2 separate regions of the Homo sapiens genome follow, and region 1 is linked to region 2. Evidence: fine-mapped expression QTL. A gene starts in region 2. The other region holds a variant in brackets. All regions are shown on one strand. Distances are between the middles of the regions.

What was found. PIP is the estimated chance that this variant, and not a neighbour inherited with it, causes the effect.
Region 1: its variant is the best candidate, but not a certain one, in a credible set for the expression of PON2 in whole blood (TOPMed, PIP 0.72).

The regions. Positions count from the first base shown.
Region 1 is chr7:95,467,391-95,472,776 of GRCh38, forward strand. It overlaps LOC107986823 (a long non-coding RNA gene), which reads left to right and starts at 3,422. Exons shown (of 3, transcript XR_001745286.2): 1 at 3,422-3,544; 2 at 3,765-4,672. It also overlaps a transcript of ASB4 not described here. RefSeq lists enhancers at 3,060-4,259, 3,168-3,217. The variant T/A (reference allele first, on the strand shown) is at 3,269.
Region 2 is chr7:95,432,264-95,437,649 of GRCh38, forward strand. It overlaps PON2 (paraoxonase 2), which reads right to left and starts at 2,765. Exons shown (of 9, transcript NM_000305.3): 1 at 2,615-2,765. The coding sequence starts at 2,688. RefSeq lists a silencer at 2,448-2,877 and an enhancer at 2,552-3,122.

The DNA.
Region 1 (5,386 bases), 35 kb after region 2:
AGTGGATGGGTGGGGTGTGGGGAAAAAAAGAAAACTCAGTAGTAAGCACTTGATAAATGTTAAATTTCTTACTATTGGCGTCAGGGAGTGGGATAGGGTATGCTAGAGGACAGAGATCACAAGTCCTCAGAAACATTGTAAAATTGTGTGTGTGTGTGTGTGTGTGTGTATGTATGTGTTTATAGACCTATACAGAAGATGTGAACTTACACCTACACACATGTGCAAAAACATATTACTTAATACATTTTAAATCAAATTTAACTTGATCTCAAGCCACCGTTGTGTCTTGGATGGGAGAAAATCTAAGCTCAGTCATTGCTGATACTCTCCTAGCCCCACCTGTGGGCAGTGCAAAGGTTCCTGAACTTTCCAGCGGGGCTTGCATAAATGGATTGTAGTCTATGCTCTGCACAACCTTAGGGTCACCATTCACATCTCAAGAGGCTTGACCACATTCTTGGAGCAGGAGAGAGGAAAACTCCAGCATGAAACAACTCACCAATTAACATTTCAATAAATTATGCAGCCACATACATTTTTTTTTGAGGGAAGAAGAGAGCCCATACCTTTCATTAGATTCTCAAAGCAAAGAGGGAGCCTGATTTGATCCAGCAAAAGAGATGGGTGTCAAACCTCTGTGCTCCACAAAGCAGGAAAACATCACATTTGCATTGATTATAGAGCCTTTTCATAGTGCTGACACATCTATGAGCTTTGAGTGGCCTCATTATTTTTTTATTAAATTGGGTTGGGGGGGGCCCCATTCAACCTAAATGCAGATGGAGTCATTGTGAATGAACTGCAATATACACAATAGGTAATAAATTCTGGGAAATGAAATCTGTCATCAGTCCACTCTTTTACACAACAAAAACCAAGATGGGGTATAACACTGAGACTTGAGGCAAAAAAGTCTCCAGGATAAAGAGGCAGAAATTGCATTCATTGACTTGTAAAGCATGTGGGGGGGCCTCTTCTATGAACAGAACAGGAAAGGGCCAGTACTAATTCAGTAAAAAGTATGTAAAACCACTGAACAGAAGACCATGCATGTAATGGAGGGAGCTTGTGGAACGCACAATGGTTTCACAAATAAATGTGGACACCTGAATGGTAACATCATTATCAGCCACATCTTCAAATACAGGGAGAGAGAAAGCACTTTCAGAAGAGTAGTAGGAAAAACACTCAAGTTAATGAAGAAACCCTGCACTAAGTCATATCTGTCATTTTAAGTGCTCATTACAATGATTATTTTTAACCGTCATTTAATTTTGTACAAAATTCAATTGATCAGACATAGAGCCATGATTAATCACTTGTGTATGACTAGACGTAAGTGGGTACTAATGAGCAGTAAACGCATGTCCAAGTCCTGTTTTTAGCATTGTTCTTACAATAAGTAGCATCCACTTTCTGCATCTCATTGCCTTTGGATGAATCTGGAAATCCCTGTTTTGTGACAGTTCAATTTAGTCTTTTGTTGCTTTGATTCCAGGGTTCTTTAAAAATTTTAAAAAATCAGTGCTCTTAGAGTTTTTGAACATGTTGTACAATCATACTTTCCATTTCTTTATCAGTACAAAAAATAATTTATCTGTAAGAGAGTTGAAGTTTCTTCACCAGTGTATGGGCAGCATGGGGCAATACAAAGTTCATTCCATTTGTTTGGAGCTGGGCAGATTTAAATTATATAAGTTGTGTCTTCATTTGTTAAATGGGAAAGCAGTGTCTACCTTACAGTGCTACAGGTAATATCAGTTAAATGTCTGTCACAGTGTTAGAATACACTCAGTACATAACAGTTGTTCTGTTGCTTCAAAGTAAAATTATAAAACAACTGACATGCAGACAATTTTATCTTGTGAGTTCTGGAATGATAGAATTTTTGAGGTCAAAAGGCCCTCAGATGAGGAAACTGAAGGCCTGAGGAGGCAAAAAGACTTGCTAAGATCAAACATTTAGTTTTCCTCATTCAATAACAATTTGTTGAATGAAAGAATAACATTACATCATCACCAGAAACCAATTTCCTATGTGTCAGGTAATGATCTGTCTCCTACAAGTGTGGCCTGTGACCTACATGTGACAATGTAAAATGTTAAATGTGAACAGGAATGAGAAAATTTTCCATTTTTTATCGGAAAATATGTATTGATTGCACTTCATGCTTAACTAATTTCACTTGTTTATTCAATTAAAAATGGCATTGATTTATTGTTTCAATCAATTGCCTACTTATACTTTTATAATTATTATATATTACATATTAAAGAAAAGGAGTAAGTCATATGGCTTATTATGAGAACAACAGTAATGCATTTAATTGTTGGTTCATTGCTCGTTCATAAAAAATAAAGTTATTGGAAATAAATTCGTTAGTATATAATGCAGCTCATTTGGCATACTTTATACGCTCAGAATTGAGTAAGTTCTATTTTCCGTTATATCAGTCTTATCAGATTGATGTAAGAAAAATACTTAAATGGCGGATTTTCATATAAAAGAAGAAGGCATTATGATGTATGAATTTTTAAATAGTGGTTTCCGAGAAATTGCACTGTGGCAGTCCTGCCTTCCTGGGGTTATTCAACAGCACTTCAGCTTATATAATTACCACACATGCCTCCTGTACAGAGCCCACGAGGCTCCCAGGTCGGTCACCATGGCAACAGATTCTGAATGGAGTAGCCCCATCCTGATACTGTGCATAGAGCCTCTTCCTGGAAAAAGTTTTATTTTTTAAATTTAAACACATTCTCCCAAATTACAGATATACAGTTTCAGAGTACTTGTTCCAGTTTTCTTATAAGTGTAATGTGAACACTAAATGTCCAGGCACACACAATTTCTTGAATAACAAAGGAAATATAAAGCAAACATTTAAATACAGATTGCCTTTTCATTCTGAGCACCATTTTGAAAAGAAGAGGAAAATAACCTTTCAGAATAAAAAACACCTGAAGGAACAGCTATGGGAGGAAATCAGCTCTCTTTGATCATTTGCTGCAATAGGAACTTTTATGCTTTTTTTAAAAAAAACTCTTAATCCATAGATCTAAGCAAATAAAATGCAATTTTTCCATTAAAAATGTTTTAAAAGAATGAACAAACACTTGTAGACAGGGCCACTTTGATAAATCTTGTGCAATAAAAGTATATTTTTATCAATAAAGTGGAAAGTACACATATTTGCTCAAGATTCTCTGTCCGCCCCCACACCTCCAGGAGGTCGGTAAGAACTCTCTGAAGCTGTGGTGTCAGA[T/A]CCTTTCTCATTTCCTGTTTGCTGTTTGGACAGGCCTGGCAGCTGTGGCGACTGAATCTAAGAAGAAAGGCTGATAATGCTCTGGCTGGTTTCATAATAGGACTTTTCAAGGCACTGTCCCATCCATTAACTCATTTGAAATGAAAGGTAGGGTTTTCTTTTTTCCCCCCATTAGGAAAGATACTTACATGTTTTATTCAAAATTCTTTTAAGCCACCACCAAAGAAGAGAAAGAAATTAACATAATAACTCTCCGGGTGGTTCCCTGTTTACAAAGTAAGTTTAACTTTTACTTTGTTTTCCTTCAGAGCCCTAAATTCAACTCCTACTTTATTCCATATTTCCATTTTCAGTCATCCTTGATGCCTGAAATGATTTAGTTGATGCCATATTGATTTCGTTCTTGTTTGCTTCCTCAAAATGTTTCTCATTTTTCTGTCCCCTTGGCTCATTTCTAAGTGTGTTTTCTAATGTCCATATCCTGCACAATTGCCAGCAGCACCATGACCTAGGGAGGACCCTCATTATGAACTGCATTCTACAGGAAAAAAGACGCACGTCCCCTTCAAATGATGTGGCTTGCCCCATGGAAAACAGAGTTGGTGTCTGAGTCAGGTTTGCTTCCCCAGAGCTCCAGGGCCATTGCTATTGTCCTCTTTCCTGCACGCTTCCTCATTTGCAAAACAATGTGAATTCTGTTCTTGCCCTTATAATTAAAGGAAAAATGAGGATGATCAAGAGTGGTTGCTTCAGGGACCTTCCACACTGCTAAGGCCACCTCTATTTTTCCAGACTCCAGGTATATTTTAAAATGAAGACATGTCAAAATAGGTTTCTGTTGTAGTTAAAATGTTTACACCTATTAGCAATTATATTTGTATGAGAGTTGAAGGCTCTTCCAACACTGTCAGTGTACTTCTGTGACAGTATGTATCTAAACTCATTTGGAAATAAACAATAATTGTCTAATTTTGGCCCTTAATTGAGGTCCTAGCTTAATGCCCTCTTTTCTCATAAAGGAATGCCCTTACATGAACATTAGGACTTTAGAGGACAGCAGTGGTGGCAACAGTGGAGTTGACTGCAGCTGGGGCAAAGGTAGCAGGTTAATACCAGCTAACACCTCCAGAGCATTTGCCATGTGCCAGGGACAATGCTAAGTATTTTATGTGTGCTAACACTATGCTTTCTTAGGCAGGTACTATTATTATCTGCTTTTTTTAACAGATGAAGAAACCGAGCCACACAGAGGTTAAATAACTTGCCCAAGGGTGCACAACTACTAGTAGTATTGAGTCTATACGCTTAAGTATTGTGCTATTCCATTTCTTACTGAATACAAAGCAAAAAAACATAAGGATCAGAGGAGGAGTGTGAGTGTCCTCATACTCACAGCAAAAGGAGGTCAGTGGGTGTGTGTGGTGGTGGGAGGGGACTTACAATATCAATAATGACACTAGGTGGGGGCTCAGTAGCTCATGCCATTTTGATTATCTACCAATGTGTGGGTGTCCCCAGGCTGAAGGAATTGGGTTAACAAGGTTTATATCTGCACTTACATTCTTTCCCCAAAAATGTGTCCAAAATTGAAAGTGCCATTTTTCAATGACACATAGAATCTGGGCAGTAGCACAGGACCCTGTGTTCAGAATGACCAGATGCTTAGACGAATGATCTGTTGCCGCCATCTTGAAAATCTCAATACTATTTGAACAAATCTCAATAATATTTGAACATTTTGCACTGGGCCCTGCAAATTATGTACCTGGTCCTGTGTGGAATTCTGGGCAATTTGTACACACTAGTAACTCCAATCTGCCGGGGGAAACAAGGTTCTATCTCCCTGTGATTCCTGTGGAACTGCAGTGCTATAAATCTGCAGTTGCCTGTTAGTGGATTTGCATTTTACTGCAATGTAATACTTTTCCTCACAGGGAAAAGCAGTCTACTCTCACTAATAGGGGTTTTAATGATGCTCTGCCAAGGTCCACGTGCATAGCCTCAAGCAAAAAGGCTCAGGACAGGCTCTGAATTCCACAGCAGGGTTAACTACAAGGGAGCTTCTTTGCAGTATGATAAAACGCGGTTAACCTCAGCTGGATTTGCAGCTAGCCCCAA
Region 2 (5,386 bases):
GCTGGGCATGGTAGCATGCATCTGTAGTCCCAGCTACTCAGGAGGCTGAGGAGGGAGGACTGCTTGTGCCTAGGTGTTTGAGATTGCAGTGAGCTTTGATGTACCACTGTACTCTGGCTTGGGCGGCAGAGCAAGACCTTGTGTCAAAATAAAAAACAAAGAAAAACAAAAAACAAACAAACAAAAACCTGTAAATAAACTATCAGGCATTCTGTCAATAAGTTTTATTTACTTTTTCTTTTTTTTTTAGATTTGCAGCTATAACTTTAAAACCTTAAGATTAGTGAGAAGGGGGAATATTTGACTGTTGAGAAAACTTCCAACTTGCAGAAAAACTGGTGGCTTACACATTAGTGACAACATAATAAGCTTGTGAATTTTGGTGGTCTTGCCTTTGAAATGGAGAGCAGGACAGATCATATACAAAGTCATCCAACTCATGAATGTTCTGTAGAGCACAATGGGCATTACCTAACATGAAAATTAAGGTCAACATGTCCATTTCCTACCCATAAGCGTTCTTTCCTCAAATCTCACTCCCATCTCAGCCACCACACGCTTCCTCTTTGCACTGCTTTATCAGTAGATGAAACTACAACCATGGGACAGTGGAGCTGTGGCACAAACTCTGGTAGCACCTTTGACTTCTCCCTCATCCCTGGGGTTCCAGAGTTTGGGTCCCTGTTATCCTCTCTGACCTACTGCAATACCTTAACCAGTTACCCCATGTCTGCTCTCTATTCTAGTAGTTCTCGACCTTGACTGCTCATTAGAATTATCAGGAATGTTTTTAAAAATAAAAAATGCCACTGCTACTGTCAGCCACTGTTCTTACATTATGCACTTCCTTATTTATCTATTTACCTGGGAACCCTGAAGCCAGCTTGCCAAACAATACATTATTCCATATCACATTTTAATTATAACGAAAAATCTCTGGTAGGTAGACACCATAGTTTATAAATTACCAACTCAAATTTTGTTTTTTATTTATTTATTTATTTATTTATTCATTTTGTAGAGGTGGGATCTTGCTATGTTGCCCAGGCCTGTCACTAACTCCTGGGCTCAAGCAATCTTCTGGCTTAGGCCTCCAACAGTGCTGGGATTACAGGTGTGAGCTGTAGATTCTGATCCAGAACAGCTGAATCAGAATCTTTGGTGGTGCCACTCAGACACCAGCCCTCCAGGAGATTCTAATGTACAGAGAACCATTGCTCTCCTCCAATCCCCCCTTCCAGGCTTATCTCTATAAAACACAACTAGTTATATTAAGTTCTTGTTGAAAAGCAAAACCCACCAATATTTCCCTTTTGAAGCACTATTGGGCCTATGAAAGTGGGGCCCCATTTTTCAACTTATATTTAATGGCCTCAAAACCTATCCTTCCCACCACCCTACTATTCTCATCTCCTGACTTTATGCTCCCTTCAAATTGGCCCATTTGCTAGTCTTCCAACTTCCCACCTTAGCCCCTTTGCTCCTGCTGCACTATACATTTGGCATGGGCCCCTTCATGCTCATATGTGTTGCACCCACCCTTCAAGGTCAGGTCGAATGTCTCTTCCTCCCTCTAGAACTCCACCCTCAGGGGATGGAATCTTTCCTCTTTAAGCCTATGCGGTTCATTTGTGTCTGTCCTTAGAACATCCTAATTTATACATTTACTGTATTTTAATTCTCTCTTCCCCTGTATCAAACTCCATAAGGGTCGTACTCTACTATAGAAGCCTAAGAGAGAACATTACACATAGCAGGTGCTCAGTCTTTCTGGAACTCTTTTGCATGAGGCCTATAAAATTTTGGTTGAGGCAGGGCAGAACAGCTCACACCTGTAATCCCAGCACTGTGGGGAGGCCTAGGCTGGAGGATTGCTTGAGTGCAAGAGTTAGGGAACAGCCTGGGCAATACAGCAAGACCCCATCTCTACAAAAAATAAAATAAACAAAAAACAAACGTTGAGTTGGTAATTTATAAACGATGATGTCTACCTACCAGAGATTTTCATTAAAACTAAAATGCGAGATGGAATAGTGTCTGCGCTGTCTGGCATTCTGGCTTCAGGCTTCCCTGGTGAATAAATAGGAAGTAAGAACAGTAGCTGAATATTTCAAGTGTCTTTGATCTACAGCTGAAGAGTTTCTCAAACTATGCAGAAATGGGTGGAGAACAACTTTATTAAAGACGGGTCTGGTTTGGGCAACAAGGAGAAACAGCACCAATGACCTGAAATAAATCTTCATAGTTAAGGTTTCAATGCATGAGTAGTCATTTTGTTTTCAATTTAAACCACTAGTTTGGCCCTTGGGTAATTGCAAAGCATTCTCTTGTCAGCCTAAGCAGAAGAGAACTTTGTTAGCAGCAAGGGCTTATAAACTTTCAAGAAAGTGTCGCGATTCACTCCAAACTTTGCTAGTTTTTTCACTAGAAGCGGAGAGTCGGGGTGATGGGGGTTCAACTAGCTGGGGGAGGGACAGCATTCAAAAATTCTCCACCCCCGGCCGCAGGGCCAGGTCCCGCAGGAATCCCTCCCCCAGCCTGCGCCCTCCCCGCACCACGCGGCCACCCCGAGCCTGGGGACCGCCGAGGAGGGGCGCGCGGGAGTCCCACCTACCTGAGTGCCAGAAGCCTCTCGCCCAGGAGCGCCAGCGCGATCCCCAGCAAGCCCACAGCCACCAGCCGCCCCATGGCGCGGGAGCCGGGCGCGCTGCCTCGCTCCGGCCTGGCCAGCAGCTCCGTGGGCGGTGCCATCTTCCCGGCTCGATGGTGCCGGCCGCGCTCCGCCCCGTCCTCCGCCTAGGCCGAGTCCCTGCGTCGGGGCCGCGGAGGCTCCGCCCTGGGCCTGGCCCTGGTCTTTGTCCTCACAAACCTATTTCCCCAGATACCTTCGGGACGGCCCGGACACGCCTTACATTAGGCTCATGATGTGAAACTTTGAATTCCTTCACTTCCTTTTTCAAACAACCCACCCGAAACCCTCTAGCAGCCCGCATACCTTTCTCGTTTCCCTAGTCTTCAAACACATTTCTCACTCGCTATTCCAGTGAGAAACTTACATAGAAAGCAGCTTTTGGGGATGGGGGTCGGTGGCCAAGGGAGGGAAAGTAACGGGATGCGTCGTGTAAATATTTCACGTTGGAATCACTACTTTTTATAACAGGACGTAGTTGCGAATAAATAAACATCCTGTGCCTCGTAATACTTTTTTTTTTTTTTTTTAACAGGGTCTCGCTGTGTTGCCTAGGCTGGAGTACATTGGCACAATCATAGCTCACTGCAGTCTGGACCTCCCGGACTCAAGGGACCCTCCAGCCTCAGCCTCCTGAGTAGCTGGGACCGCAGGCACGTACCGTTACACCTAGCTAAGTGTGTGTAAGTTGTGTGTGTGTCTGTGTGTGTGTGTGTGGAGACCGAGTCTTGCTGTGTTGCCCAGGTTGGTCTCAAACTCCTGGACTCAAGCCATCCTCCTGCCTCAGCCTCCCAAAGTGCTAGAATTACAGGAATGAGCCACCATGCCCAGCCTCTATTAATACTTCCAGACTACAGACTTAAGGACTTAGACACGTCTTTTTCATCCAAACTCAAAGGGAAGAAGTGTAGTTTTTTTCTTTTCCGTTTTTACTCTAACAACCGTAACATGAAGGAATAATTTAAAATACAATTTTAAAAGTAAAATGAAATTTACCCATCAAGATTGATACCATTACAATAAATGAGTACATCTGAAATAAGCTTCTAATGGTTTTCGGTATTTAATTGCCACCCTACAATATGTAGGCAGAAATGGTCACACTTGACAATTTTCAACAAATATCAGTTTTATAAAGAACCAGTAAATAAAAGTGGATGCCAATTTCCCACCTGCCTCTCACCAAAAAAAAAAAAAAAAAAAAAAAGCACAAACACCTCTCTCCCTGTGTGTGTGTGTATCTCTGCTTCAGTCCTAAGGATATTGGATTATACTGGATGGTAGAAAGAGAAGTAAAAAGTTGTCCTTTGAAAGCCCATGAGGCATTACCTTTTTTGTGTCGTGGACCCTTCTGGCAGTGGTGAGCCTGTGGATAACTTCTTAGAATAATGTTTATAAATGCTTACAATAAAATGCATAAATTTTCTCTGTGCGGTTCATGAAAAAAAGAAAGAAGAAAAAAAAATTTTAAATAAATGAATAAAATGTATAGATTGCAAAGAAAATCAATTACATTGTAAGGAAAAAAAATAGCTGAGAGCAGTCTGAGCTTTGTGAGGTATGCAAAATTTATCAGGCCCAGAGCGACATGAGTATGGGACTTCAGTCACGCCCCAATACCCATGCCTGGGGACAGTTGTTTAAAGACATTTTGTTCCCGAGTAGCTGTCCCACCCATTATCTTCATATTCCTGGAATTTATGATACAAAGAACAAAGTATAACCAATCCACAGCTTATGTTATTTTAACGCAAGGAATTTAGGAACTGCCTCTTCCTTCCCCTTAAAAATCTATGTGTAACTGCTGCTAATCAGAGTGTATATTTAGGGAAACTTGAATCTATACTCCTGGGTTGCAGTACTCAAACTTGGCCCAAATAAACTCTCTACTTACATTAATTTTGCCTTAGCTTTAAAATTAAAGGTCAACAATTGAAATGTAATTGTTAAAATATCTAAAACATAATTTTTTGCTATAGTAATGTGGTAATGTAATGTGTGCAACATTATTTAACATATTAAATAACAAGATCTAGCAACATTCTTTTAAATAAAGAGGAGTGCAAATGTTCTTTCATGATACTGAAAACAACTATAATGAAATAATGAAAATAACTGTTATTTCCATTAGTAACAGTCACAAGTACTGCAAATGCTTCTGAGGTTTGTCTGCTAGTTTTGTAATTGAAGAAAATGCTAAATTCCATTTGAAATCAAGATTTTTTTTTTCTTATCCAAGGTCATTAATTCCTCTGAACTATCAATGGACCACTGGGTTAAGAACTCTGACATAGGCTAAGGCTATGACTGTTTAGAGAAGGGTGGAATCTCCTTTCTAGGACTATTTTTGGTGTCAATTATTGAGGAAGAGAAGAGCCTCAGATACAAAATCAGAATTTAGGCCTGGCAAGGTAGCTCTTGCCTATAATCTCAGCACTTTGAAAGGCCCAGGTGGGAGGATCACTTGAAGCGGGGAGTTCAAGACCATTGTGGGCAACATAGGGAGAACCCATCTCTACAAAAAAAAAATTAAAATTAACAAAAAAAAAAAATTAAAGAATCAGAATTTAGAAGAAAGACCTAAAGCAGAGGGCCTTGGACTATTGTCTGGGCTTCTCTCTTAATCTCTTAGGCCCCAAGGGAAGTACATACAACTATGCCTCATGGATTCTGGGTCAGGAGCCAGGCTACCGTGTC